3 linked regions of the Homo sapiens genome follow. The protein of the gene in region 1 interacts with the protein of each later gene in a pairwise test. Each region holds a gene or a part of one and is shown on either strand. Other genes may lie near its edges.

Evidence for each region. Proteins that work in one complex are often made in the same cells at the same time.
Region 2: the proteins of VSNL1 (region 1) and FAM131C interact in binary tests that used the Homo sapiens proteins (3 or more experiments, as listed by UniProt).
Region 3: the proteins of VSNL1 (region 1) and SRL interact in binary tests that used the Homo sapiens proteins (3 or more experiments, as listed by UniProt).

The regions. Positions count from the first base shown.
Region 1 is NC_000002.12:17,543,244-17,551,039, reverse strand, and holds part of VSNL1 (visinin-like protein 1), read right to left. Parts: intron 1-7,796.
Region 2 is NC_000001.11:16,070,335-16,078,326, forward strand, and holds the start of FAM131C (protein FAM131C), read right to left. Parts: upstream 3,318-7,992; 5' UTR 3,109-3,317; coding exon 3,087-3,108; intron 1-3,086.
Region 3 is NC_000016.10:4,231,764-4,239,559, forward strand, and holds part of SRL (sarcalumenin isoform 1 precursor), read right to left. Parts: intron 1-7,796.

The DNA of each region.
Region 1 (7,796 bases):
TTGACTTACTGCTCCACCTATTCTGCTGGCCTCAGTGGTACAGCTCTCCAAAGGGGACTTAGACATGTATCAGACATGATTTCTTCCCTCAAGAAATTTCCAGTTTTATGCGAGAGTTGGCATGTATACAGTGATTATGTGTTCAGATGTGCTAAGAGGACTGAGAAGCAACTTTTTGTTGCATTCCCTTAGGATGACTGGGTTAGGATATCTAAGTAAGGTTCAGATTTTCATAATCAGAACAGCTCTTGCAAAGTGATTTCCATAGTCCTTGAAGAGAACTCATCTCTGTTCATGAGTTCAAGAGCTTATCCAAGACAGAGTACCTGTGTTTGCATGCATATGTGGGTCTCTTTAGTTTCTCCTGTTGGTCTTACTGTCCTTACTCACATTATTTGGGTCTGTATATGCATGCTGATTCCTGGAAGGGAAGTCCCAGTTACTCTCATGGGCTTCTCTTAACCCCAGTAGGATGAAAATCTTATTTCCAAAGCTTCTTTGCTAGAGCAAACACGTGAGCTTGACTGTGGTTGCTTTTCTTTCCACAAGGGTCTCTTTGGAAGCCAAGACATGTTCACACCACTGAGAAATGGCTGTGGGCTCAAGTTCTACAACCAGAGCATGAGAAATCCAGAGGCAAATTTAAACGATACAGATGTGTCTCAAACCTTCCATAATTTAGGCTTTTCCTTCCAGATTATTTTACTTCAAAATCATTTTTTCAATTTAACTGTGAAGACCTAGTTATCATAGATCTATCATTCTTTCCCAGGACCTAGAGTAGGGGTGGGGAGAAGACAGGGGACATATTTTAGCAGATATAACCATAATATAATAATTTGCAGAAGATCAATAATTTGATTATAAATCACCTTTTTAAAATCTAAAATTCTAAAGTTGAATGATATGAACAATAAATTTTTTATTGTCACATGCTATTATGCAGTCTGTGAAGTATGCTCACAATATCTCGTAACTACAAAGGGTAGGTAATATCATAGTTATTCTCACATGAGGAAACTAAAACTCAGAGAAGTAAGTCTTCCACAGCTACACACTATGATGCCTAAAGCACAGGTGTGATGCCTAAAACACACATTTAATGACTACTAAGTTTGTGTACTTTCTATTACATAGTTCAGCTTTTGTCTTTCTAAAGCAGTTTTTCTAACTGAGTTCTTCAGAACAACAATGAAATGTTGATAAGTATATTTTCACATAAGTTTCCTGTACAAACAGGTTTGGAAATATACAATTAATCAAAGCTAAACAGATTCAGTGGTCTTTACCACAGGACCACTCAGACTTATTATTAACATGAAAATGAGCACTGGGAATATCGAAGAGTGGGATTTAGTAAGCATTTTTCCCCAAAGAAGTGTTTCAAAAAACTCTTTGTTTCTGTAAAGATATATTTCCAAAACGCTGATAGGTATTCTTACCACCAAATTTAAACCATCCTCCCTTTCAATTATGCACTTGATCTAGAATGAAGAAATTTCAATAGGCCTTCCTTTTTAATGCTGTCTTGTAAGTAATGATTTGTTATGAAGCTATTACTCTTAAATATTTTGCTTAAAACTATACAAAACAATCTATTACAGTACATTGAACATACTGTGTATATATCATGTATGTGTGTATGTATGTATCTATCTATCTGGATGTATGTGCATCTCTACCTCAGCCCTACCTTGAGTACCATTCTCTGCACTTGGTCAATCTGCATTAGTGCACACTTCTACAAACACTCAGCAAATGAAGGTTCTGATAGGCTAAACCTGATCTGAACATGTTCTGCAACATGTGTTGTGTGTATGGCCTCCCTCTTCTGCCATTTATTTGGTGTTATTTGAGAACCATTTATGTGATAAACAAAAGATATGCAAGTGATATCACCAGATCCTGCATAAGAGTTGAGGCATAGGCGTCTCCTGAAGTGTTTAACAGGTGCTCAGGGCACCTTGGGGGAAAAGGTAATGGAAAAAAGAGGATAAAAATCAGAAGATAATTAAGCACTGTCAGATGTCCTCTGACATTATTTATGAAGAGCACCACAGAATCACTGGAGTGGGAGAGGACTGTTCATCAACTGAACATTAGTCACTAGAGGCTCTGAAAAGTTTAGCAGAAGACATGTCTTAAACAAATGAAAGAGGTTTTCTAAACAGATGCAGGAACACAGGCCTAAGCTAGGGCATTGATTCAGTTAGCACACGCTTTCTAGGACTGCGCTCACCATGCTACCTGGGATATGTGTTATGTTACCTATTATTTAACTATGAGCCAATTAGGAAGATATACTTGGAAAAAATGCAGCAGGACACCTAGAACACTAGCCAAGGAGAAATGGTGAAATGTAACTGAGAAGGTGGTCAGAAAAGATAAGATGTGGGCAGGAAAGAAGATTGGGGTGTGCAGGGGGAGAAGGAATTATTTATATTCCAAGCTCTTTCAGGTGCTATATACACATCACTATATTAGGACTTCAACATTCATATAAGATAACTACATTATCCCTATTTTCACCAGTGAGAAAATAAACTCAAAAGATTAATTAGAACAATAACCCTACTCAATTCTATGAATCATCCAGGAGTTGTCCTATTATACAAAGAAACCTCAGAATTTAGGTGCAAGTTTTGTAGACTTCAAAAAGAGAAAAAGATGTCCTTTTTTATCTACAGATTAGAAATATGCCTGAAATTTCCTAGGAAATTGGGCAGGAAATAGAGGAAGAAGGGGGGAAAACCTGAAGGAAATTGAAAATGCTCTTTGAGGAGTTAAAAACAATAAGGTCACTTTGGATTTGATGTGTGTGGGGGTGGGGGAAATGTGGAGAGGGGCTAGAAACATTGTTTTTGGTTCAGTAGGAAAGAGCAGTTGGAAGGTATCTTTTCTTTATTGTAAAAGCCTGGGAGAAAAGAATGAAAGAGTAGCTCATAGGAGACTCTTCCCACAGACACACATTGAATGATTAGTCGCGAAATGGGTTGGAAAAATAGAGGAGGTGTGGGGAGAGTATCAGATAGAAATCCTGTTTTGGGAAAGTATTAAAAGATAGAAGTATCACAGTGTAATATTTAACCAAAAAAGCGGAGCTCCTGAAACGTTTTTTATTGAAGTTCAGTGATCAACTGTGAGTGCAGGTTGGGGGAGAAGGGAAACGTGTTATTTAGCTACACTGAACAGTAATTCATAGATAATAAAATATATCCAATAAGGAAATAAACTCAAAAATTTCCTTTCACTTCCATATTCTGGACTCAATTATATGCTGGCATTATATAGTAGGGTGATGATGATAAAGTAAAGGCATAATGGAAAGGGGATGCATTTAAAGAAGGAATAAGAGAAAATCTGAAGTCTTAGTGCAGGGATTTATTTCATTCTGAAATAATTCTGTGCATCCATACCACCTTTTCATTTCACTTGACTTAAAATTGCATTTATCTGTCTTCTCCATTAGGCATAAATTCTTGAAGGCTGGGATTGTATCTTACTTAATTTTGTTCTGCAGTGACTACACAGAGCTTGGCACACTTTCTCAATAAATCTAAGTTTTATAAGGTAGGGTAAGCACCGTAAACTGTTCACTATTTGATTCCTTATTTAGAAGTTGTGCAATGAACGGAGATTGCTTCAACTCAGTGACCAAAGTGGTTTATGAGCTATTGATTTCTGATTAAAGTGATGCTAATGATAAGGATAACTATTATTTATTGTACATTTTCAATAATAAGCCATTATATTCTTTACATATATAATCTTCTATTTTCTGTTCAAGAATCCTGTGAATTACTATTAGAAACTGAGGCTGAGAGTTTAAACAATTTATTCAAGGTCACAGAACTAATAAACTATGGCCCTGGGAATTTTTGTCTAAGTATTAATATACCTAGCTGAAGAACTTTATACTTCCTCTCATAATTTTCTCTGAGCCAACTGAAATCATGGTTAGAAGTTTCCCATTCACAAACTAAAAATGAGGAAAGACTAATAGTTTAGTGGTTTTCATCTCACTCAAGAATGAATACCTTTATAATCATTTAAAAGAATAACAATTTTATACATAGGATTTAAGTTTACTTCACAATTTCCTTTCATTTTTCATAAAATTTTTCATAAGAACAAGAAAGCAAAAAACATCAAGCACTTTATATAAAGTTACAGAAACTCTTGAACTTCTGGAATTAACAAAATTGATAGTCTTCCATTAACTCGTAACATCAAATGCCAAGAATTTCAGCAAACAGAACTTGCTAATTGAAAGTGAGCCTTGTGCAGCACTACTTGATACATTAAAAGCAAAATATTATATTAATAAGCATTTCAACTTTATTAATAATGCTTGATGGGTCTCCAACGGGACATTTTACTCAAAATTTAAAATTGGACTTCAAGAAATCAGAAATAAACACGCCAATCACAAATTACTAAAACCAATGCAAAATATAAAACACTAGTCTCCTGTAACACCAGCGTTTACTATTTCAAGAACTCTTGAACTGCAAAAAGATTCTAAAATATAAGATAACAGAAATATTAGGATCTGTTGATTTACATTAGAAAAAATTCACCCAGGTTTCAAAGTACGTTTAACATGTTAATGATTTGCCAAAAAAAACAAAAAACTATTTACATAAAGCTCCTCAAAAGTTCATAGTCTTTCAGAGCCTAAGAAATAATAAACAAAATCCAAAAAAAGGAGGAAAAAGTATACTTAAAAAGTGAGAGATTTCTATTTTCAGAAAAGTATTATATGGGCAGCAATGAATAGGATTCATTCTATGCATCGATAATAATTGCAGATAAATTTAACTGATTTGTTAACACTTTGCCTTTTATAAGCAATGCCTCATAAAAATAAAATCGTTTTTAAGTAAAAGAGATCTACTTTCTACAAAAAGTTCAGTAATTATTGTATTAGGTACATTGAGCTTGAAGACCACTTGGTGAATGAGAGTACTCCAAGTCTTAATTGTAATTTAGAACAAAAGGAAATAGAATGCTCACCTGGAAATAATCCAGTAAGTCCTTGGAATTACCATGCATTAAAAAAAAGAATAAACAATTGATGGTTACACAGCAGGTCGTCTGTGTTAGGACTGCAGTAAATTAAGTAAAGAGGTGGAGAAATCCAGAGAAAGTGTAAGAATTGTGAAAATTACCCAATCTGCATACTTTAAGTTAGCTGATAGGGGTATAGAACAGCTCTTGAACATATTCACAGGCACCTTATGATTAAAGTGTCAAACCTCTTTGAAGATTCCTCAGTAATTTACTATTCCATTTCTGTTTCATTCATTAAATAGTTTCTAAAGCATCCCCAAGACCCTTCCATTAGTAAAAGTTCTCAATGATTTAAGCTGGGAGCAACGCAAACTATTTTGATTCACTTAAGAGTGCATAAGTTACCTTTAGAAACAAACTGTAAATGAGAAATGCAATGATGTGGTCCCCTCACAGGGTGAACATGTTAAAATAATTCCATAGCTCAAGAGAGCATGATCTAAGTGGAGCACATAGCTACCACAGTCTAGATTTATATTCCCTCTTTTACTTATCAATATTCTTATTCTTGTAAATAGGTAAAAATACTTTATCTTTTTACTTATTAAGAGACAAAAAGGATAAACATGTAAATAGATTTTAAAGCACTCTTAGAGGTATTAATATAATGCTTTAATATCTTTACAAAAAATAAATCATAAAATAATTTTTTTGAGATAGGGTCTCTCTCTGTCATTCAAGTATAAAATAATTTTTAATCTAGTTTTTTTCGTTACTAACAAAGATACTTAAAGAAATGTTAATTGTGCACATGGTTTCAGTAGAAATTTAATTTTTGATATAATTAACAAGGTACATGCAACTGATTCTTATTAGAACAAATATTTAATTGACAAATATTGAGTTTCCACTATAAAAGACATTGTACAGATATTGTGGAAATATTTTAAAAGGTCATTAAAATCATTGCTTTTCCAGACAACGAATTCATATTGTAGGGGTGTCTTTAAGATAAAAAAATTTCCTGAAGATACTATTTTAAAAATGGATTGGAGGGATGGATTAGGTGACTTATATGGATCTTGTCCAGCTCATATGTTCTATTAGTCATATGAATTAACCATTGGGATAGTAAAACTATCAATCATTCTTTAATATATCTCTGTACCATTTGATACTTTAGGAAAATTAATGTTTATATTCACTATGCATAATGAAGATGGACACTGTCAGTTTAGATTAATTAAATGTGATCATTTCTGTGGAGAGAGCCTTCCTATTTTCCTAAATAATCACTAATTTTAGGAGCATAGAAATCACTCAAAACAAAGAAAAAGACCTTGAGAACAGTGAAAATATATTGCTGTTATCAATTAGGAAACCATATGTTTGATACTGATGCTGAACTGTTATTCTGTGAAACTCCCTAGGGAGCCTCTCCACAATGTTTGGAATTCATAACTACATGCAACCCAAATAGAAAATCTATAGCTTGCCCAAGACAATATTCCTGATGCTGTAATCCTATCACATGTGACTCACATGTAATGGGGAGGTGATTCACAGTGTAGTAAACCAAAGCGGGGCACTTAGCAACTACAAATCTCCGCATCTCTGCAAAGGCTATCTATCTGGTGTTCAGAATACCCTGGAATGGGTATTCTGCAAGGGTATATGAATGGGTATATCAGCAAGATCAGGTAACATCTAACTAACCCGAGAGCATTTGTTAGAAACAGACTCCATCCAAGACAGAGCTCATCCCAATTCTGTAAAGATTTACCAACAGAGGAGGGGTTAAATTAAATTGTTAATTGGTAAAGGTGTTGAGAAACTCACCACTTTGCTTCTTAAAAGCTTCAACAACTTCCAAGAGTAGTTACCTACTCTTTGAAATGAGAAAGAGATCCCAAGTGGGACTTCCTCTGGCCTTGCATTCCAATCATCAAGCTCCTCCTTTCCTAATGCCTCAGCTTTTTTCATGTAAGAATCCTTAGCATTTCCCCATTTGTGGTAGTTGTGAGTATCTTTCTGAGTGCCTGGGAGATTACATTTTTGGAGAAGAAACAGGAAGGCCCAGACTATATTTAGGAGGCATAGAATGTTATTGTATAGGCACTCAGAGAATTTTTATGGAAGAAAGGGAGAAAATGAGGAAGAAATGGAGAAAGCAAAAGAGGAAAAAAAGGAGAAAAAACAGGAGGAAGGTAGGAAGGCCAGTTAGGCGGGTCACCTTGTCTGCTTTGCAGCCCTCATCCAGCAAGATGAGAGCAGAAACTGCGAAAGAATAAAACAAAAGATCTGCCTGAGGAAAAGCTATGCAAATGCTTTAAAAGCTTTAAAGGATGAAAAAGCTGCACTACTCTCCTCTATAGCACAACTTCAGGTTAAACCAGTCAAGCCTTCTTCGGTCTTTCTGTCCCTTCCCTTTCCCTTCTCCGCAGGTGGCTTTATCTGGAGGATTTCCAGGAAGGCTGGAGACAGGCATCTCTAATTTGGGTTCTGCCTCCTAGGAGCCAGAGGTGAGCTGGCAAAGTCCACTCTGGAAACCCTGCAGCTTCCTCACTCCACGAAGTCCTAATCTCTGCAGCTGCAGTGGTTTTGGAGGAGGACAGATGGGGAGAAAAGTGGGAATGTAACTGCAGTGTCTTTGAAGGCTGGATTCCCTGAAGGATTTTGGGGAACACAGCAGGGAAAGATGGAAATGGGCCCTGGGCAGTTCTCAAACAGGAACTGCAGATTCTGATACGCTAGTGCTCCCGGCAAACGCCAAGGATTCCAAA
Region 2 (7,992 bases), on another chromosome or scaffold:
ATTTGTTGCCTTAATCTGGTCCCAATCACTTTCTCAATGTCCTCAGCACCTCGAGTGCCTGCCACCCGCTGCCTTTCCCATGAGGCAGGATGTGGCTTAAAACCTCTGTAGGTTTCCCCTTCCAGCCATGAAGGCCCACATTAGCTGTCTGCACAGACAGGTAATAAAAATTAAAGGCCGGGTGCAGTGGCTCACACCTGTAATCCCAGCACTTTGGGAGGCCGAGGTGGGAGGGTGGCTTGAGGCCAGGAGTTCGAGATAAGCCTGGGCAACATAGTGAGAGCCTGTCTCTATTATAATATATACAATATTAAAATTAAAAGTAAAAATGAGAGCAATAGCTAATATGTACGAGTGCTTACTATGTGTTGGGTACTGGTCTGAATGCCTTACATGAATTAAGCCATTTAGTCCGCCCAGCAACCCTATGACATCAATACTATTATAATTCCCATTTTAGAGATGGGAACACTGAGATACACACACAAGGTCAAGTCACTTGCTGAGGTCACAGAGCTAGTAAATGGTGGAGCCCTGCTTCGTATTCTGCACTCCTAGCCTCTCTACCAACTAGGCAGACGCTAACTGCTGCCGATGCTGGGATGGGGTGATTTTCCCAGGTGTGGCCTGACCTAGGTTTTGGGGTTTGGCTGGGTGGCCCCAGCTGGGTGCAAGCTCTGGGCTCAGTATGGGCATCAGCCTGAGGCCTGCAATCCTTGGCCTTGGCCAAGGGTGGACGCACTCCCTCCACCCTTCCTTCTGTAGCAGTGCCTACCTGGCCTAGGAGGCACTGAGCGCTCAGAGGCTATGATTAGCAATCGATTGCTGGTGCAGGGGCCAGGTGGGGGGCTCAGGAGCCCACAGCAGCCTGCAGCTCCAGGAGAGTAGACAGGTGCAGGCACCAGGGCCGAGGGCTGGCTGTGAGTGCAGAGACTGAGGCCCTAGGCTGTGGAGTCAGCATGCCATGGTTTAAATCTTGGCTTATACTATCCTAGCTGTGTGGCCCTGGACAAGTCACTCCACTGCCCTCTGCCTCAGTTTTCCCACTTGTAAGATAGGGACTGTGTTCATATATAACCCAAACTAGCTTTATCTGCCTAAAACTTTCAGACTAGTATGCACTCGGAGAGCATCAGTGATAAGGAGAGGGCAGGGTGGGTCAGTGATGCAGCCACCCAGAGTCTCTGGGACCCTGGCTGTCCCCTGCCCACATGGCTCCCCATATTCCTTTCACCTCAACCCAACTTTCCTGGATGCATGTTGAGACTGCCAGGGGCCCCGTCCTCTCAGGAGGGGGACAAGGCTGGACTATACAATTAGATCTGGGGGGCGCTGAGGAAGCCCAGGCTGCAGAAGGAAGGGTGGAGAGAGCGTATCTTGGCTGCTGTGGCCCCAAAGAGCCCTGGCAGAGGGGGCGGTGGAGGGAGCCCCAGGTGTGGGGTCAGAGGACCTGGGCCCCAGCCTCTCAGGGTGACCTTAGCAGGCGTCTCTTCCTCCCCGGCCTCTGTCCCATGCTCAGTGGGTTCTCAGCTCAAAGGCCAGTCCTTCTGGGCTGGGACCCCAAGGTGCCTGATATGGGGTGGCCAAGTGAAGGGGAAGGGACACTGAGGAAACACTCAGATCCCCTCCACCTGGAGCTGGCCCCAGCCAGAGACTGCCTAGAACCTTTGGGGTTTCTGGAGCCTGGTGCTCCTAAAGAACCCTCAGCACTCCTCACTCTTCAAACTTCCTTCCCCTCCCGCTAGGCTGCAGGCCTCCCGTACCAGGTGCTGTGCTGGGTTCCTTGCTGCTGGATGCCCAGCATGCACACGGTGCCTGGCACACGGCAGCTATCATGTTAATATCAGCTTAATGCATGGATAAGTAAAGGAACCCCACACAGCCTGACCCTGTACCTTCCCCTTCCCCAGCCGGGATTCCACCCCGATACCTCCCAGAGACATCCTGAGCCACTTACCTGAATGCCCACAGGAACTCCTGAGCAGAAGCCCTTCGAGTCCAGAGGATGGGGGAAGGTCATTGTGCTCCTTGCTCAATACCCCCAGGACAAGGTCCCCTCTATTCTGGGTAAGCTACTAGGGGTGATGGGTGTGGTGGTGGTCAGTGGGTTTGGCCTCAGCCTGCAGAGCCTGAACCAAGGCCAAAGCCACCCCCACTCCCAGTCACACCCCCCTGATCCCACTGTGGGGTGAACAGACCAAGGTGGGAGAAGGGCTCAGCCCAATCGCTTGTCTAAAATGTTGCCCAACAGCCTGTTGGAAAGCTGGTGGTGATGGGTGGGGGTGGAGGTAGGGGGCTCCAAAGACCAAACTGCCCATCCCCCAATCTCTGTGCAAGACTGTGTGTCCCCTCCTCACAGATAGAAGAGGCTGGGGCCTGCCCTGGGCCCCCAGGCAAGGGCAGGTCCCCTCCACCTCCTTGGGTACCACGTGGGGGAGAGTGGAGGGTGACAGGTCAGACACAGAGAGAAAGGCCCAGGGGTAACTGGGAACATCAGCTGTGCTCTGGCCCTTCTGTCCCCTGTCCAAGGATGGGGGTGGGGAGGAGGATTAGGGGGCAGGGGAACCTTCTTTATAACCTGTGCCCCACCATTAACCCTTTCCTGCCAACAGGGTTCAGGGGCTCTGCAGATGGGGGCACCCGGTAAGACGTGGGAAGGGGCTGTGGGGGTGAGCTGGTAAGACCTGTGTCTTGGGGAGGGGTGGGAAAGGGAGGGTCTGCTAGTTCTCCCGGTGCCCGCAGTTCCTCCGGGAAGCCAGGAAGAACCAGAGCTGGTTCCCAGGCACCCGGCAGGGGGTGTGTGGCTGTAGGGATGAGAGCGCGGCACGGCACGGGACCCTGCTTCGTGTCACCTGCGGGGCTGCAAACTGGGGCGGGGATGCGGTGACCTCTGCACGTGCGCTCTCTGCGCTGCCCCCGCCCCCTACCGTCCCTAGCTCTGTCCCCCTCAGGACGCCGCGTCCCCAGGGGTGCGGCGGGGCCGTGAAGGGCGGGTCGCCAGCCCCATCCCCCAGGTCTCCGAGCGGCGAGGGGACTGCGCGGGTCCCCGGCACCCGATCCCCCCGCCCCCGGCCGGGCCCCCTCACCTCGCGACACGCAGGAGCCCATCACGGGGCCGCGGGGCCGGGCCGCTGCGCCCGGGGTGCGTGGGGCCGCGGGGCGTTCATGTCTCCGCGGGCCCGGGGCTGAGCGCTGCGGAGCCAGAGGACGGGCGGGGCGGGGGGCTCGGGCGCCCTCAGCTCGGCCTCAGCTCCAGCCTGGGTCGTCCCTGCTGCCGCCGCGCCCGGCTCGCCTCGCGCCGCCGCCTCCCGCGCAGTGCCCGCCGCTGCCAGGGGAGGGCGACACCGCGGGGCGCGGCGGGCGGGGCCCGGGGGAGCGCAGCCGGGAGGCTCGGGCACACCTGTGGCCGCAGCGCGCGGGAGGGCCATCTCTGTCCCTTCGGGGCTCCCCCACCTCCTGGGGTTGCCCGGGCTGAAGGTCAGGGAAGGGGACAGAGGGGGCGGGGAGACTCCTGGCATTTGGGGCACAAAGTAAACAACATGAATTTAACCACACCAACGACGACTGGGCACGAAGGCTTGGGAGCGAGGAGGGGTGCGCGCAAGAACAACAGTTCCATTGGGCCTATTTTTAGAGGATGAAAGTGAGGCTCGCAGAAGTTAGAGGCCTTGCCTGAGAGCCCTAAGCTGTGAGTTCAGCGACTTTTGACTGTCAGCGCCTCATTCAGAGCTATTGAAATTAACATATGCAAAATAATATATGCCCAGAGGTGGGGTAGAGAGAGTGCGGGTAGATAGTGCGCTGGTGGCCTGGCGGCGGGATGAAGGGTCTCCAGCGATGGTTGAAGAGGGGGGCAAGGCTGCCTCTCAGGGCTTGTCTAGGGCAGAGTAAACTGAGGCACAGGTTTTTTTCCCCAGCCCTGGACGGCCTCTGTAGTCATTCACACTTACTCGCACGTACCTACACACACACTCTCCCATGTGTACATACCCCTCATTCACACACTGATGGTCATACACACACATATATATGCACACTTGCATTTACATACACGCACACACACTCACATACCTACACATGAATACACAGTCTCCCATGTGTACATACCCACTCACACCCACACAATGACAGTTATACACTCACATTGAAGCACGCTTGCATTTACACACACACACACACACACACATCCCAGCTCCTGAGGTGTGAAGATCCTTTAGCAAAATTTCCCATGCACACAGCACTCAATGTCAGTGTCTGAGACCCTCACTCACACATAGCATCTCGCTCTCTCCTTCATGCCCACCTGTGCATCAGGCAGGGCAGGCACTCTTGTGTCTGTTTTCCAGTTGAGGCAGCCAGGTTCACTGGTGGCAGCAGAGAAATGTTTTGAAGAATGAATAAGGAGGGGCCAGGCGCGGTGGCCCACGCCTGTAATCCCAGCACTTTGGGAGGCCAAGGCAGGCAGATCACTTGAGGTCAGGAGTTCGAGACCAGCCTGGCCAATATGGTGAAACTCCGTCTCTACCAAAAATATAAAAAATTAGCTGGGTGTGGGCTTGGCACAGTAGTTCATGCCTGTAATCACACCACTTTGGGAGGCCGAGGTGGGCGGATCACCTGAGGTCAGGAGTTTGAGACCAGCCTAGCCAACATGGTGAAACCCCGTCTCTACTAAAAATACAAAAATTAGCCAGGCATGGTGGTGGTGGGCGCCTGTAATCCCAGCTACTCAGGAGGCTGAGGCAGGAGAGTTGCTTGAACCCAGGGTACAGTGAGCCAAGACCATGCCACTGCACTCCAGCCTGGGCTACAAGAGAGAAACTCCATCTCAAAATAAATAAATAAATAAAAAGCTAGGTGTGGTGGCACAAGCCTGTAATCCCAGCTACTCGGGAGGCTGAGGCAGGAGAATTGCTTGAACCCGGGAAAGTGGAGGTTGCAGTGAGCCGAAATCGTGCCACTACACTCCAGCCTGGTCGGCAGAGTGAGACTCTGTTTCAAAAAAAAAAAAAAAAAAAAAAAAGAATGAATAAGGTTTGAGGCAGCAGCGTGGGATAGGGCTGGAGGCCTCTCAAGGGGCAGGATCTGGGCCAGGGCGCACTGCCAGAGCAGCTGAGCCAGGGAGTGGGTGCTGACTTCTTTCTCTTTCTCTAAGCTAGGTGCTCTCTGCCCAGTAAAGTCCGGGTGGAGAGCGGTTCTGTGCCTGGCCCTGGTGTCAGCAGACCTGGGTGAATGAGGGCTTAGCTCACACAAGCTGTGCGACCTTGGGTAAGTTGCTTCGCCTCTCTGAGTCTCAGATTTTTCATCTGTTAACTTAGGGTAAAAATCCCACCTCGTGGGATTGCTGTGAGGGCTGATGAAATTAATATATGCAAAATCACTGGCACGTAGTAGGTACTCAACTTAGGACTAAAAATAAATAATAGTGATAGTGAACACAAACAGGTATGATGTGTTATTACTCCACCACAGCTTCCCGACAGCCACAGGGAAGTCTGAGAACTTCCGTTCAACAGATGCATATAAAGCACCTACTGTGTGCCAGTGTGAACAAGACAAATGTGCCAATCCTTGAGTCAGCGCTGTATTCAGTCACAGTTGCTCAGAGCCCCCCTAACTGTACCCTCCAGGTCTGGCCTTGGAGAGGGTGGCTCAGAAAGGACAGCCTGCTATCACCTTGGATGCCCTGGTGCCAGGTGTGTGCCTGCCCTTGTGTGGAGAAGGAAAGGCGGATCTGCCTGTGCCAGGCTCTGGGGTCCCGTCCTGTGTGGCCTGGGCTTGTAAAGGCAGTGGTGTCCTTCTCTTCTTCCTGTCACGGAGTGACTGGATCTGGCTTGGAAGGAGGGCTCTGACTCACTATGACGCAGGATGCTCCGTCATGGCAGCTGATGCTCCCTGCTGGCAGCCTGACAGCTTTGGGGGTAGATGGGACAGGGAGAGGGACACTTGAGAAGACGACAGGGCAGCTCACAGGGGAGAGGATGCCTGGTCACCCCACTGTGCCCCATTTAGCCTAAGCCAGGGACAGGAGGGCAGGGCAAGGCAGTGGCCCCACCTAGGGTCCCTTGCTGACCCACTCAGAGATGTGGCTGGGCTGGAGATCTGGCTCTCCAGCCTCTGGTGTTCATGCTGGTCAGTTCCACATTGACTCAATCCTCTCCTTGTACACATTGGCACTCAGAGAGGGGCAGGGGCTTGCCCAAGGTCACACAGCAAATCAGTGGTAGAGCGGGGACTAGAACCCAGGTCTCCTGCCTCTCAGCCCAGCCCTGGCACCAGCCTGAGACCAGGCCACGCAGGGCCGGTGGCTCTCCTTGCACGCTCACATTCACCTTGGAATTCTGCTGAAGTAGACGATGTCCAGACAGCTCTGAGCTGTGTGGTTGTCCTCCCCGGGGCCACACTGTCCTTTCCCAGTTCACCCCATAGCCCATCTGCCCTGTGACCTTCCACTGCCCGCCCCCAGGGCCCTCTTTGCCATGCCGCTGCTGGGCTAGAGTGGAGAGGAGAGAGTGTCCAGGCTGTGCCCTTCACACCTAGCAGCCCATTCTCTTGCCATGATTTCGGGGATCCAGGCAGAACCCCCACTCCGGTGGCCTTGCTCCGAGCATGCATCAGCCCTGAGTGCCTGGCCCTGATTGGCTGGGCACTGGAGCGTGAAGAGGAGCTGCTGCAGGGTTTGATCAGAGAAAGATTAATCAAGGCCAACCATTACAGCGATGAATCAGACCAGGCCCTGCCCTGGCAGCCCTGGGGGTGGGGCGGGGACGCTGCAGGAGCCACGTGCATAAATAGCGCAGGGTCAGGGTGGACAGTGCTGCATCTCCATGCCAGCCAAGTGTGTGACAGGAGAGTCACTTCTGCCAAGGGCTATGGGGATGGCTTTCAGGCGATCGTGACCCTAGAAGCGGATTTTGAAGGTCGAGTGGGCTGTTGGTGGTAGAAGGCTCTGTGTGCACAAATGTTTGGAGGCAGGGGGCCACAGCAGACTGGCATATATGACATCCAGGGACCAGTGGGAGAGGGTGGGGCTGGACCCCTTCCCCAGGCCCCAAACATCGCAAGAAGGGCAGAGCTTGAAAAGCAGAAAGAGAACAGCATCAGAAGCCAGTCAGATCTGGGTTTGAATCCTGTGCCAAAACCAACATGCAGTAGATCCATGCTCAATAAGTATTTGCTGAATGAATGCGAGAAAGTGAGACTTGCCCAAGGTCCCATATCTAGAACGTGGGACTGGTTCAATCAGCCAGGACTGATTCAACCTTTCATTCATCCAGCAATTGCTCACTGAGCACCTGCTGTGTGACAAGCGCAGTCTGTGCCGAGATTACGACATGAATGAGACGGACAAGGGCCCCGCTCATTGGAGCTTATGGTTCTGGTGGGGGAGGCAGGTGTTAATTCAATAATGACCCAGATACATTTAGAATCACGGCCCTGGAAGCGCTCAGAAAGGAGCCCTTGAGAGTGAAGAAGAGGACTTCATCTGGTCCCAGGCATGAAAGGCACATCCAGAGAAATGACAATGACAGAGCCCACAGCTGATGGATGGGTGGGATTTAGCTAGGTAGAGAGAGGGGAGGGCCTCCAAGGCAGAGGGGCTGGGCAGAGAGGCTAGGCCATGGCCACGGTCCGGAGGTGGGAGGGAGGGACCAGGTCCTGGGAGGAGGATAGAGGTGGCAGCTCCTGCAGGGCCTCACAGTGGAATCTGGTCTTTGTCCAAAGCACATCTCTTGTTTCCTCATCTGTGAACCAAATCCCCCCTCCATTCATTCTCGGTGAGATGGAGGTGCACATGAGTTTCCAGGAGAATTCCCTGCTTTCTCTGGAGGTTTGGCCCTGCCTGGGGGGTTCCAGGGGCCAGGACTTGGGGCCTTTTGGTGGAGGCTGAGAAAGAAGGCCACAGGCTGACCTCAGAATGGGCCCACTTTCAGCTCCAGGCTCAGGACTGGGGGCTGCTGGCTGGAGTTGGGTGTCAGGTCATCTCCCTGC
Region 3 (7,796 bases), on another chromosome or scaffold:
TGATATTTCAGGAAACTGGAGGCAAATATCAAGTTGCCGCATACTCACAAGAGTGATAACCTGTCATTCTTGTCATAGTCCTTTTAAGCTTAGAAAGTATCTATTATCAAAAAATATTTTAAGCATCCGATAGCCATTTTCTTATTATAGTCACGAAACAGCCCCATGCTGGAAATAGAGCAAGTATCATTATCCCCATTTTATGGGTGAAGAAACAAACGCAGAGATAGTCAGGGACTTGGCGGCTGATTTGTGACAAAACCAGCATTTGCTCTGCCCCCGGGTTCCGGTGCTCCCGCTGGGCCCCACCCCAGGCCAGCCGCTCTGCCTCTGTGTAGACAGCGCCAAGCAAGGAGGGACTTGGTGGAGTGCTCACCAGCTTAACTACCAATTCGGAAAGGAAACAAAGGCAGGAAAGGAGGTGGGCTGGTGTCTTGGGAGCCCGAGGCCAGGATGGTCTCCCCAGGACAGGGTGAGTACTTGACACTTCTCCAGTTCTTTTCCAGATTCTTCCCAAGTCCTAGAGAGCACTCCCGGTCTCTTGATCTCCTTGGGTAAGTGCAAGAAAAATAAGTAATCATCTACTACTTGACACTAAGTAATCAACAAATTGGCTAGAGGCCTCTCTGGTGGACACAGGGACACAGGTGGTCACATCAGGCCCTAAATGCTGTGTAAGTTGGAGGCCCATCAGTGGCATGGCTTCCAAAGGAATGGCTTGGTCAAGCCTTTACCTATTGCCATCTAGACGAATTTTTTTTTTTTTCAACAGAGTCTTGCTCTGGCACCCAGACTGGAGTGCACTGGCACAATTACAGTTCACCGCAGCCATGACCTCCCGGGCTCAAGAGATCCACCTGCTCCAGCCTCCCAAGCAGCTGGGACCACACGCATAGGCCATTATGCCTGGCTAATTGTTGTATTTTTTTGTAGAGATGGGGTTTCTCCATGTTGCCCAAGGTACTCTTGAACTCCTGCGGTCAAGGGATCTACCCGCTTCAACCTCCCAAAGTGCTGGGATTGCAGGCAAGAGCCACCGTGCCCAGCCTAGGGGAAATTCTATGGGAGAAAACTGAGCTGGCCTAGGTCCTAGCCAAATGACTACCTGAAGGAGGACCGGGGGCTGCAGTTTTGGCAGCAATCCAGTGGTGGGGGGAGGCGGGGGCTCCCAAACCCCGGGACTCTCCCCTGAGCTCCCAGCACAAGCCACTTCCTACAAGCCCAGAACTCCAGGCCAGACTTTGTCTGCACCTGTTTGAGCTCAGAGTACAGTCCCTGCTCTAGAAGCATCCAAAAATATCTGAGAGAGCGGGGAATAGGGAGGGGCTATCTGGAAGAAAACAGGCTAGAGTCTTCAGAGGGCTGAGAGAAAGAGCCACTTGGCTCAGCATTCAAGGTTCTTCCCAACTGGCCCCAACTCATCAGGGTGGCCTAATCTCCCCCGAACACGAGCCCCACACTCTAGCCAGAGCTAGTCTCATCCTGTCCCTGGCAGTGCCGTGCTCTGAGCTTCCTCACCTCCTGGCTTTTGTCACCATCTTCAGGTGTCTCTGCCTGCACAAATCATCTGTCATTCATTAGACCTTGTTGACTGCCTTGAATGAGCCAAGCGTCATGCTACACTGTTCGTGATGAAATACGGGCAAATTAAACAAAGGCACAGCTTCCACCCTCCCCAAGCTGACCGTCCAGCAATTGTCCCCTCCCTGCACGTTGGGCTGAAACCCTGTCCCTCTGCACAGCCAACCTTCCCAACCATCTTCTGAACTTCAACCAGAGTGAGCATAGACTGCTGGTGGGGGGGTGTTAGTTACATTTTTTTTTCAGTGCGTGTCATCTCCCCAAATAGAAGGTCAGCTCCTGAGGGCAGAGACACAACTCATTCCCGCCTGCACAGTGCAGCTGGCCAGGACCTCACAGGGCTGACAAGGGGCTGAGAGATGGGCCTCACAGGGAGGGACCCACAGCTGCCTTACACCTCTCCCTGCTCTCATCAAATGCCCCACTCTCTCTGCTCCCTGCAGTCTCTGAGGCATCTGAGTCTGAGATTGTGCCATACCCTCATGCTTCTATTTGATCCTTTTGTGCCTTCATCCCTAACCCGAGTCCATCCTGCTTTTCCAGCCTAAAGGGGGACTCCCTTTAGGGAGCATCTCTCATTTCTTCAGGATTTGGCACCCAATCTCTCCTCTCCTGCCAGGGCTGGCCATGGCCTGCATTCATTCTGTGTTCTCTCTCTCTTTTTTTTAAATATGGGGTCTCGCTCTGTTGCCCAGGCTAGAGTATAGTGGTACAATCTTGGCTCACTGCAACTTCGACCTCCTAGGCTCAAGCCATCCTTCCACCTCAGCCCCCTGAGTAGCTGAGACCACAGTGTACCCACTACATCCAGCTATTTTTAAAGTTTTTTTGTAGAGACAAGATCTCACTGTGTTGCCCAGGCTGGTCTGGAACTCCTGGGCTCAAGCAATCCTGCCGCCTTAGCCTCCCAAAGTGCCGGGATTACAGGTGTGAGCCACTGTGCCTAGCCTATTAATTAAATTTAATAAATTATTGCTTTAATTCTGATTTAATTTGGTGCTTTCATTCTGATTCTGCCACCTTCCCTGAGATGGGGTGGCTCAGCAATTGCTGCTCTGGGAGTCCCTCTGTGACAGACAATGAGGAAGTCACAGGCAACAGGCATGTCCCCAAGGTAGGGGGGCAGCTGGGACCTTGACTCCGAGTAAAACCACCTTCAGGGCTGCAGAGGGATGAGGGAGGCTGAAAATAGATGGAACAGGACTTCTCTGATATTAGAGAAGGATGACAGCACAGGCTGCCGCCATCGAGGAAATGAATCAGTCTCTAGAAACTCAGTTAAATCCGTCCCATTTGCTAAACTGCACCCACCCCTGTCACGTCCTACTGAGGATACCCAGCTAGGGATGAGCACAGGGGACTGGGACCTCTCGAGCACTGGGCAGATCATGCTTAGCAGCCGTGCTCGCCATGGCTCCAATTCATTCATTCATTATTTCACCCATTCAGGACCCAGAAGAGAAACCCCTGCTATGTAGCTCAGTCCCTCTGCGCTCAGAACCGGTGAACTATTTACCACCTCCGTGTTGAGATTTAGGAACTTTGGGTGAGACCTTGCCTGCCAAATGGGAAATTCCATCTTAGAGATATCTTCCTTGAGCTGAAATCTTCTGAATCCTCTGAAACACAGACAGACTTGAGCAAAGTGCCCATCTGTGCTGCGAGTCACCAGCCTCCACTGCAATGAGCTGCAGCTCCCCCCATGACCAGTGTCTTGGTAGCAGGGACAGGGGTCGGAGCAGGGGCCCAGCCTGAGTAGGGAAGGGAGACCCAAGAGGGAATGAAGGAGCCAAATAGGGCGGAGGCAGACTCTGAAGATCAACTTTTAGCTCTAAGAAGACAGGTGAGGCCAGGGGCGAGGTCCCTGAGAAGACAGGACTCCCAGAGCAAACTCGGGAGAGAACAGAAGCCAGCCCACCACCTTGAGCCAAAGTGAGTCCTCATGCCAAAGTGAGTCCCACCAATGGGACACGAGAGGGCACAGGCCTCACAGCCAGGAACACATCATGAAGGGGACCTGAGGCTGGACTCCCATCCCCAGTCCACAAAGAAGAATGAAAACCAAAGTCAGCTGCGTGCAGTGGCTCACACTTGTAGCCCCATCACTTTGGGAGACCAAGGCAGGAGAATCACTTGAGCCCAGGAGTTTGAGACCAGCCTGAGCAACATAGTGACATAGTGAGACCATGTATCTACAAAAAATAAAATTAGCTGGGTGTGGTGACACATGCCTGTAGTCCCAGCTACTCTGAAGGCTGAAATGGGAAGATCACTTGAACCCAGGAAGTTGAGGCTGCAGTGAGCTATGATTGCACCACTGCACTCCAGTCTGGGAGACTAAGTGAGACCTTATCTCAAAAAAATAAATAAAAATTAAAAAAAGAGAGAGGACTACAGTCATCATCTGAGTAACTCAGGCCACATATCCACCGCGCCAATTTCCACTTAAAAAAGCTAGCCCTGGGCCGGGCACGGTGGCTCACGCCTGTAATCCCAGCACTTGGGAGGCCGAGGTGAGCGGATCTCGAGGTCAGGAGATCGAAACCAGCCTGACCAACATGGAGAAACTCCGCCTCTACTAAAAATGCAAAATTAGCCGGGCATAGTGTAGTCCTGGCTACTCGGGAGGCTGAGGTGGGAGGATTGCTTGAGCCCAGGAGGTGGAGACTGCAGTGAGCCTTGATCAACCACTGCACTCCAGCCTGCGCAACAGAGTGAGTCCCTGTCTAAAAAAATAAATAAAAAGAAAACGTAAAGAAAAATATTTTCTCTACCTCAGTAAACCCATCTGCTTTTAAGTTACTGTTGCTGGCCTTTATTTATCCCAAACTTAATTTTTAAAGGTTTCTATGTCTAAAGATGTTGCCTCCTCATCCTCACTAAATACCCTCAAACCCTCCTCATTGGTCAGTGACCTCCTGGTTGTCAGAAGGAACAGCTCCTCTCCCTCAGCATCTCTGTGATATTTAATCCTGCTGGCCACTCGCCCTTCTTCTAGAAGACCTGGGCTTGCAGGTCACTGTCTCTTCTTGGGTCCCTTCCTATCTTTCTGAAATTCATTTATCTTCTTCCTCTTCCTACTCCTCAAACTTAGCGTTGATCAAGGACTGGTCCTTGAATCTTTGTCTCTCCCTGGTACAGCTCCATGGGTGACCTCAGAGCCTCCCTCTCATCTTTACGTAAATGAATCTCACTCCTAAATGCCCTGACCTGACTTCCCTCCTAAGCTCCAGTCCTGCCTAACCCCTGCCACCTCCTTCCAGATGCCCCACGAGTAACCAATCTTCATAATGACCCAAACTGAACTTTTTTTTTTTGAGACAGAGTCTTGCTCTGGTGCCCAGACTGGAGTGCAGTGGCATGATCTCAGCTCACTGCAACCTCTGCCTCCCGGGTACAAGCAATTCTCCTGCCTCAGCCTCCCGAGTAGCTGGGATTACAGGCGCATGCCACTACGCCCGGCTAATTTTTTGTATTTTTAGTAGAGATGGGGTTTCACCCTATTAGTCAGGCTGGTCTCGAACTCCTGACCTCGTGATCTGCCCTCAGCCTCCCAAAGTGCTGGAATTACAGGTGTAAGCCACTGCACCCAGCCGTGAACTTTTTTTTTTTTTTGAGACAAGGTCTCACTCAGTTGCCGAGGTTGGGGTACAATAGTGCCATCACAGCTCACTGCAGCCTCAGCCTACCAAGCTCAAGCGATCCTCCTGCCTCAACCTCCCAAGTAGCTGGGACTACAGGTACCCGCCATCATGCCCAGTTCATTTTTTCTATTTTTTGTTTTATTTTCTATGTTGTCCAGGCTGGTCTCAAACTCCTAGGCTCAGGCCATCCTCCTGCCTCTGCCTCCGCCTCCCAAAGTGCTGGGATTACAGGTGTGAGCCACTTCATCCAAGCCCAAACTGGACTCAAAATCTGTTCCTCTCTCTTATGTTCCCAGTCTATTTTTCTGGCAAGATCATTCTCCCAGTGACCTCAATGGAACCTGTAAGGGCCCCCTCCCCTGGCCTGGCTCCCAAGCTGGGAAGGCCAGGGATTCTACACCAGCTGTCAGCTGGGTCCACCCCTTCTCTCCACTCCCAACCCCTCGCCCAGGTCCACACTCCCTCACCTACCTCTCTGGCATGGCTGACTAATCAGTCTCCCCCTCCCTACTCTTCCTACAAACAACTGCCAGACGGATCTTCCCTGAGCCCTTGGTAGTGACCCGCTGCCCACAGAGCAAAGCCCTGCTTAGCCTAACAAGGCCCTTCACACTTCAGCCCCACCCCTGCCTTCCGAACACGTCCCGCCACCCCACTTCCATCTGCCCGCCTTCATGCAAGACAGAACAATGCTCCCCTTCCCTGGGTCTCACCAGAGCCCCGTTGCTCTGGCACCGTGAGTTTGCTCATCTTGTTCCCTCAACTCAGAATTCCCTTCCTGCCATCTTTCTGTTCTGAATCCTGCTTTCTTCAAGGCCCAGCTCAAATATTCCCTCATCCGTAAAACCTTTTCTGATCCGATCCACTCAGCTCAGGATGGTCTCCTCCCTGCCTTCAGCCCCACCTTGCTTTTCCTGTGCCTCCCCAGTGACACTGATGTGTGTCCCATTTGACTAGATTCAGCTACGTGCAAGGGAGAAGACGCCTCCTCTCCCCTACTGGACTATAAGCACTGAGGACAAAATGCCTGTCTCAATTCCCCTAGTACCATACTTCAAAAACAGCAGGGATGCAGCAAACGAGGGATGGGTTCACGAATGATGGAACACGTTGAGGTGTTTGAATGACAGGGTTGCACATACGAGCGATGTTTACAGGTAAGGACTTATGCTGCGATGAGGCCTGGATTTGGGTTTGGAGCAGGGCATGTGCCCAGGAGAGAGAGCTAAGTAAGCCCAGGCGCTCCATCCCACAGCCATGGCCCTCCCTGCTCCCCACTCCCCCAGCCACCTGCCTCATTCCAGCCAGGATGCACAGGGCCTAGCTCTGTCCTTAGCCTGCAGGCCAGGTCAGAGAACGGAAACAGCTGTCCCCCTCCTGAGTCCATAGGCTGACTCTCCCCAGCCCACTACACCCAAGCAGGCATCAAACGGCCAGCTAGATGCTACCGGCCTCATCTGGACCTCCCTCTGGGGGATAAGCGGGTAAAAGCACTGGCCAAGGAGTGGAAAGGACTGAATTCCAGCTCTGGCCTGCCATGAACTCACTGTTTGACCTTCACTGTAATACCTGGATGTAGGAAAAAACCAGCAGTTCCTAAACAGCAGTTCCACAGGCCACCATGCCCGGTGCCACTTTTTTTTTTTTTTTCCTTGAGACAAGGTCTCGCTCTGTCACCCAGGCTGGAGTCAGTGATGCAATCACAACTCACTGCAGCCTGACCACCCAGGTTCATGTGATCCTCCCCCCTCGGCCTCTCAAGTAGCTGGGACCACAGGCATGCACCCCTACACCGAGCTATTTTTTTTTTTTTTTAGAGACAGGGTCTCACTATGTTGTCCAGACTGGTCTCAAATTCTTAGCTTCAAGCGATCCTCCCACCTTGGGTTCCCAAAGCGCTGGGATTACAGGTGTGAGCCACTGTGTCCGACCACCGTGTTACCTTCTTGAGGGATGTGTTCATTAGCAAGACCCAGTCTAGTGCATTCCAGGCTCACTGTGGGACCAGATGTCCCCTACAGGCTTGCCCGGCTGCACCAAATGAGGAGTCAGGGAACCAGCTGTGGGGAAAAGGCTTCTGGGGTCTGTTCTCTCCCCAAGACCCCTGAGCTTGCTACATTTTCTCAGCAGCCCTGCCACAGCTAGGCTGCCCTGATGAGGAAACTGGAGTGCTGGCCTCTTTCCAGAAATAACCAGCCAGGGGTGGGAGAGAAAGGGGCGGGGAAACAGCTTCCTGACCGTCACTGCACCCTTGTCTCACATGGCGGGCACTGAGCTGTGGGCACTCACAGAGGGGCAGCCCCAGCATGCACCAGCCCCTTGCCATTGGGGTGGCCGGGTGGGGCCAGGGCAGATGGGCAAGTCTGAAGCTAGGGCTGGAGGTGGAGGAAGGATGAGATGGACAGGAATCCCCAGATCCCCAATCTCCGTATCAAGCAACAAGAGGGACAACAGGAAGCAAAGAGGTCCCAAATTCTGCCTTTAGCAGTAAACACCAATGGCTTAAACCCGAAGAAATGAAATGCTTTCTCAGCAGACTTCGCTCTCCAGGGAAACCAAAAGCATAGCTCT